2 separate regions of the Homo sapiens genome follow, and region 1 is reported to be linked to region 2. The links are microRNA targets in miRTarBase. Many come from high-throughput screens and were not tested one by one. Region 2 holds a microRNA gene; the other region holds the end of a gene's coding sequence.
The links. Region 2 holds the annotated microRNA hsa-miR-330-3p (GCAAAGCACACGGCCUGCAGAGA, at 2,154-2,176, shown strand). A microRNA usually pairs through its seed, bases 2 to 8, with sites in the 3' UTR of a target mRNA and lowers its output. Matches are read on the target gene's strand: a 7mer-m8 pairs with bases 2 to 8, a 7mer-A1 pairs with bases 2 to 7 and ends in A, and an 8mer does both.

Region 1: miRTarBase lists SFTPB as a target of hsa-miR-330-3p. Seed matches in the 3' UTR shown: 7mer-m8 at 469-475.

Annotation. Positions count from the first base shown.
Region 1 is chr2:85,658,590-85,661,983 of GRCh38, forward strand. SFTPB (surfactant protein B) reads right to left here. Exons shown (of 11, transcript NM_000542.5): 10 at 2,865-2,946; 11 at 1-1,093. The coding sequence ends at 2,884. Among named protein-coding and RNA genes, the nearest start is that of SFTPB, 7.9 kb to the right of the region's middle.
Region 2 is chr19:45,637,791-45,641,184 of GRCh38, reverse strand. MIR330 (microRNA 330) reads left to right here and starts at 2,098; the gene lies at 2,098-2,191. It overlaps EML2 (EMAP like 2), which reads left to right and starts at 1,788. Exons shown (of 19, transcript NM_012155.4): 1 at 1,788-1,828; 2 at 2,312-2,340; 3 at 2,551-2,680. The coding sequence starts at 1,809. RefSeq lists silencers at 1,494-1,583, 1,604-1,883, 2,580-2,874 and enhancers at 1,259-2,110, 2,580-2,874, 2,111-2,962.

The DNA.
Region 1 (3,394 bases), not on the chromosome of region 2:
GCCTCCTGGGCTGCAGTGATTCTCCTGCGTTCAAGTAATTCTCCTGCCTCGGCCTTCTGAGTAGTTGGGATTACAGGCATATGCCACCACACTTGGCTAATTTTTTGTATTTTTAGTAGAAATGGGGTTTCACCATGTTGGCGAGGCTGGTCTCGAACTCCTGACCTCAAGGATCCTCCTGCCTCGGCCTCCTAAGGTGCTGGGATTGCAGGTGTGAGCCACCACGTCTGGCCATACTGCAGCACTTTAAAGGACGGTGTCTTTTTCTTTCTCATAAAAGAGAATAGGACTTTATTAGCATTGGTGCAGACATTGTATTACACAGGAATGGGTCCCTAGCTTGCACAACCCCAGCTGAGCTTTCAGCAGATAAATCACAGCAGAAATAGAATCACCCTAGGACTTTCAATCAAAAGCTGGAAGTCCACCTTACAGAAAGACAAAAAGAAACCCCTTTTTATATCTTAACAAAGCAATAGCTCTCAAGCAGCAGAGCATCTCGAGGAAGAAAGCTTGCCCGGTCGCCATCCCATCATGCCAGAGCGTGCAGTGTCCACCCTTGACTACGCTGGGGAATTGCTGATTTTTTGAAAAAGCTTAACTTAACAATTTCTGATGTCTATCTTTTAGAGTTCTGTATGTTCCCATTTTTTATTCTTCTGAATTTTGAATTGCAAGTAGCTGTAAAATCCAATCTTTGAGTGCATGGGGGTGGGTGTGAGGCGGGGCTCAGCTTCAACCCCCTGTCCTGTAAAGCAGTGGCTGGTTTTTCCTGAGCCCAGCCCTGGGAGGTCGTGGTAGGTGTGGAGGCTGCAGAGCTCCTCCAGATGCTGCCCTCGCTGTGCCTCACACCAGAGAGGATGGAAGTGGGCTCTGGTGTCAGACTGTGGTTGAGCTGAGACAGACAAGGCCGACACAGGGCTGGGGGCCCGTGGTCCACCAGTGGAAGTGACTGCCGAGGAAGGGCGGTGAGGAGGGCGGTGTGGGAGCTGAGGCTTCTTTTCAGCCTGGCAGCTGGCGAGGGCCAGGGAGCAGGGGAAGAGCCTGGTCACCATGGTCCCAGAGCCCGTCTCACTTGGCTTTTCCTTTGCAGCTGAGGAGGATGAGGGCCAGAGAGGGACTGTGTGTATGTCCTGCCTGGGGACCCACAGCCAGGTGATAGCAGAGGTGGTTTGAAGCCCAGGCCTCCCACGCCAACCCACTGGTCTTGCTGTTTCAGCAGGGAAGGCCGGGAGCCCTAGGAGCTGGGGAAAGGCGACTGCCCGGGTCCTGGGTGACTCCCCACCCCCAGATCCCCAGCTGTCATCACTGGGGCAAGGACACATTAAACTGGTCCCTGTGGGTCAGGTCTGAGTGGGGGAGGACCTCCCCTCCCCACTGCCTCCCACAGGGGCTTGTGATGCAGGGTTTCAGGAACAGGGCTGGCTTCCCCGCCTCAGATGGAAGAAGTGGACTTGGCTGTGAGCTCCAGGAGGGCAGGGCTCAGCCATAGCCCCTACCCTAGGATGTGGCCTGGCCACAGGCACCCACTACTTTTTTTTTTTTTTTTTTGAGACGGAGTCTCACTCTGTCACCCAGGCTGGAGTGCAGAGGCGCAATCTTGGCTCGCTGCAATCTCCGCCTCCCAGGTTCAAGCAATTCTCCTCCTCAGCCTCCCAAGTAGCTGGGATTACAGGTGTGTGCCACCACATCTGGCTAATTTTTTTTTTTTTTTTTTTTTTTTTTAGTAGATACGGGGTTTCATCATGTTGGTAAGGCTGGTCTTGAACTCCTGACCTCAAGTGATCCACTCGCCTCGGTCTCCCAAAGTGCTGGGATTACAGGTGTGAGCCACTGCGCCCAGCAAAGAAATACCTTTTTTTTTTTTTTTTTTTTCCTGAGACAGAGTTGTGCTCTGTTGCCTAGGCTAGAGTGCAGTGGCACGATCTCGGCACACCGCAACCTTCGCCTCCCAGGTTCAAGTGATTCTCCTGCCTAAGCGTCCTGAGTAGCTGGGATTACAGGCACCTGCCACCATGCTCAGCTAATTTTTAAAAAATATTTTTAGTAGAGACAGGGTTTCGCCATGTTGGCCAGGCTAGTCTCGAACTCCTGACCTCAGGTGATCTGCCTGCCTCGGCCTCCCAAAGTGCTGGGATTACCGGCGTGAGCCACCATGCCTGGCCTTACATTTTTTAAAATGAGGGAACAAATGAATAAATGACCACCATGTTAGGGGCTGGCTCTGAACAGAATTGTAAAGTGGGCCAAGCTTGCTCTCAAGGTCACCTTAAGCCCACGGTTGCTGTGTCCTGCCCTCTCAGGGTCATTTCCCAGCCTCCAGGCACCTGTTCACAGAGGCTGCATCTGGCCTCGCCTCCACCCCTCCATCCTAAGGTGCTCCGCTGACTTAGAACAGGACAGTCAGGGAGAGAATGTGTCTCAGGAGGGTGGAGTCAGATGATCACGGCCTTCCTGGCATCTGAGGGGATACAGCTTCGGGTAGCAAAGTGTGATTTTCCCTGAGCCCCAGGAAAGCTTGGCCTTGGTCAGAATACATTGAACCCTGAGGGCCAGAGAGTCCCTGGGGCAAGCTCTGAGAGGGAGGCCTGGGACAGGGCAGGGCGGGGGGTTGGGGGGGAAGCTGGGGGTTGGGCACTCAGTGACTGGGGTTCTGGGCGGGGCAGTGCTCGGGGTCCGGAAAGGGTGTTTTCCTGATGGCCAGCCAGAAGCCCTCAGGAGCCTCCAGCTGTGCGGTGAGAGGGAGGATGGAGCAGCCGGCAGGAGTGGCCGCCTCTTCCTGCTTGGGGAGCAGAAGGGCCTCCCATGCCCTGATGGTCAGGACCTGCCCCCTTACCTCCCCGCAACTGGGGGCCTGGACTCACCTGGACAGCTGAGTTCTCATCAAAGGTCGGGGCTGTGGATACACTGGAGAGGGCTGGACATGGTCCCACACACCCCGAGGGCCTGTCACAGGGACAGCACCAGGGCTGAGGCCTGGGCCCCCTCAGCTCCCCACACCCAGCTCTTCCGGGAAAGAACAGCACTCACTCCACCTCCCGCCTAGTGGGTGCTACCAGTGTGACTCTGTAGACCCCTCGGGCCACTCCCTGAGCCACAGGCCTTAGGGTTTAGAGCCTGAGGAGGTGAGATGTTCACTCCAGAACACCCACTTTGTACCCCCACCCCACCAGCACACACTGGCCAGGGAACACAGCCCCATCCTATAATGGACATCCAGCCGCACTCCTCAGGCCATCCCTCCCTTCCCATCCCCCTTTTCCATGCTCTCATGATTTTTTACACTGAAACAGAGAGGGGTGCCTCCCAGTCCCTGGCCCGTGCACCTGGGACCACCTTGGACCCAGGGGAGTGAGGCCTCTGAGGATCACGGGCCCAAAGGGTGGGGGCTCTG
Region 2 (3,394 bases):
GTGGAGGCATTCCAGATTCCAGAAGCTTTGACATCAAAATCGGGGGGCACTGCCAGGTTGAAAAGGGCGTGGCTTAAAGGTTGGGCGGGGCCGTAGGGGCGTGGTCAAATGCCAAGAGGTGCAGCCAACTTGGAGGCCTCGAAGGTATTCACATAAGGAATACGTGAAAATGGACGTAATCAGAATGCCTGGCGGGCCGGAGAAGGAGCGTTGGCGGGAGGTAGCAGTCAATTCTCAAGCAACTGAGTCAACTCAGGGACAGGGTTAGAAGGGAGGCTCAGAATGACAGGCGTGGTCAACTCCAGAGGCGGGGCCATACTGAAGATCTGGACAGAGTCAAAAACTAAGGCTATATAATTCTAGCAGTTTGGGAGGCGGAGGCGGGAATCATCGCTTGAGCTCAGGAGTTCGAGACCAGGCTGGGCAAAATAGCGAGCCCTCGTCTTTACTAAAAATGAAAATAAATTAGGCCTGGCGCGGTGGCTCACGCCTGTAATCCCAGCACTTCGGGAGGCCTAGGCGGGTGGATCACAAGGTCAAGAGATCGAGACCATCCTGGCCAACATGGTGAAACCCCCTGTCTATTAATAATACAAAAATGGGCGTGGTGGCGCGTGCCTGTAGTCCCAGCTACTCGGGAGGCTGAGGCAGGAGAATCACTTCAACCCGGGAGGCGGAGGTTGCAGTGAGCTGAGATCGCGCCACTGCACTCCAGCCTGCTGACAGAGCAAGACTCCGTTAAACAAACAAACAAAAAACAAAAAACAAAAAACAAAAAAAAAAAGAGAGAGAAAGAAAATAGCCGGGCGTGCTGGCCTTCGCTTGTAGACCCAGCTACTTGGGAGGCTGCGGCAGGAGGCTCACTTAAGCCTAGGAAATTCGAGGTTTCAGTGAGCCATGATCACGCCATTGCACTCCAGTTTGGTCGACAGAGCCACACCCTGTATCAAAAACAAAACAAAACAAAAATCACCCTAAGGCTGGAGTTATGGTGCAGTGGGCGTGGTCAGCGCTAGGAGGCCACGCAAGGGCAAGACCAAGGTCAAAAGCTGCACATTTCAACTCTGCTCAAACATAGCAAACACAAATACAGCGTTGTGTATACTCCAGGCACTTCCCAATAATTAACCAATTTCACCCTCGCAACTACCCCCGGGAGGTGTGAGTACTCTTATTTATTTATTTATTTTGAGACGGAGTCTTGTTCTCGTTGCCCAGGCTGGAGTGCAATGACACAATCTCAGCTCACTGTAACCTCTGCCTCCCGAGTTCGAATGATTTTCCTGCCTCAGCCTCCCAAGTAGCTGGGATTACAGGCGCCAGCCACCACGCCAGGCTAAGTTTTGTATTTTTAGTAGAGACGGGGTTTCACCACGTTGGCCAGGCTGGTCTTGAACTCCTGACCTCAGGTGATCTGCCCGCCTCGGCCTCCCAAAGTGCTGGGATTACAGGCATGAGCCACCGCGCCCGGCCGGGTACTCTTATTATCCCCATTTTTTAAATGAGGAAACCGAGGCAGAGGTTGGACGACCTGTGTACACTGCTAGGAATTAGCAGAACTGGGGTTTTAACTCAAGCAGGCGCGCTCCCGAGTCCATGTTCTCAACCACTCTCCCCCACCCACCCCGAAAGAACCTGGGATCGGGAGTCCACAGCCCGGGATGTGTGACCCGGTGGGACCCTCCGGCTCCAGGGGTGGCTGTGGAGGGCGGGGCAGGGGCGCGGCGGCCCGGGCGCCTCCCAGGGCCGGAAGCGGCAGAGCCGGTCCCGGCTCCACCCCCGGCCCCGAAGCTCCGCCACCCGCCGCCATGAGTAGCTTTGGAGCTGGGTGAGACCCTTTCGCAGACCACCCCCCATCTCCTCTCCGCGCTCCCGGGGCTTAGATCTCAGGTTTCACCCAACCCCTGGGACCCAGACCGGCGTGGGGACACGCCCCTTCCCTTAAACTCTCCCCGTTTCTCCCTCTGCTTGACGTTTGGTGTGCTGGGGGAACTGCGGGTGGGGGGCGCTGGGGAGCACCTTGCTGATTAGGAGGGAAGGGTCCTTGGTGACTCCCTTCTTCCAGGATCGCGTCCCTGCCACTTCGTGCTGTGTGATCTTTGGCGATCACTGCCTCTCTGGGCCTGTGTCTTAGGCTCTGCAAGATCAACCGAGCAAAGCACACGGCCTGCAGAGAGGCAGCGCTCTGCCCCTTACTCGGCCCCGTTTTCATCGGAGACCTCCGGGGAGCGGTGGGGGTGGAGGAATGGTTTCTCCCCTTTTCTGAACTGAATACTAAGACCCTTTTTTTTTCTTTGTCCTTTCCTGACAGCAAAACCAAAGAAGTTATCTTCAGTGTGGGTGAGTGGGGAGATGGGGAAGGGCTCGGTGGAAGCTTGCTTGTTGGGGTGACAGGCTGGAGCCAGAGGTCAGGAGTCTTGGCTACTGGGTCTTTGCCTCTCTGGCCTCAGTTTCCCTGCCTTTAAAAAAATAAATAAATAAAGCTGGAAGAGGAGAGGGAATAGGGATGGGGCTGGTGTCAGTGCCTGACCTCTGGGGGTGTCCTGGCAGAGGATGGCTCCGTGAAAATGTTCCTGAGGGGCCGCCCTGTGCCCATGATGATCCCAGACGAGCTGGCACCCACCTACAGCCTGGACACACGCTCGGAGCTGCCTTCTTGCCGGCTCAAGCTGGAGTGGGTGTATCCTTTTGCTGGAATCTCCTTGGTGCTCCCATCCCCCCAGGAGGAAATAGAAAGGCGGTCAAGGCAGCTCAGGCCTGTAATCTCAGCACTTTGGGAGGATCGTTTGAGGCCAAGAGTTTGAGACCTGCCTGGGCAACACACAAAACAAGCACAGCACGTTCAAGGGCTATGTGGCCAGAGTGGGATTGGTGCATTTGAGCAAAAAGAGTTGGGAATGGCTGGAAGCCCGGGCTCTGGAGTCTGACAGAGATGGGTTCAAACCCCAGTCCAGCCCGTACCTGGCCGTGTGACCCTGGAAAAGTCGTCTTGACTCTGAAAAATGAATTTTATGATCTCAGGTCCATAGACCTGTGAAATAATGTGTAAAGGTACTGAGCTCATAGTATGTGCCCCATGCACAGGGACTGATAAAACACTAACTCAGCACATTGGGAGGCCGAGGTGGGTGGATCACTTGAACCCAGGAGTTTGAAACCAGCCTGAGCAACATAGCAAGACCTCGTCTTTACAGGAAATAAAATAGCAGGCCGGGCGCGGTGGCTCATGCCTGTAATCTGAGCACTTTGGGAGGCCGAGGTGGGCAGATCACCTGAGGTCAGGAGTTTGAGACCAGCCTGACCAATATGATGAAATCCTGTCTCTACTAAAAATACAAAAATTAGCCGAGTGTGGTGGCATGTGCCTGTAAACCTAGCTACTCGGGAGACTGAG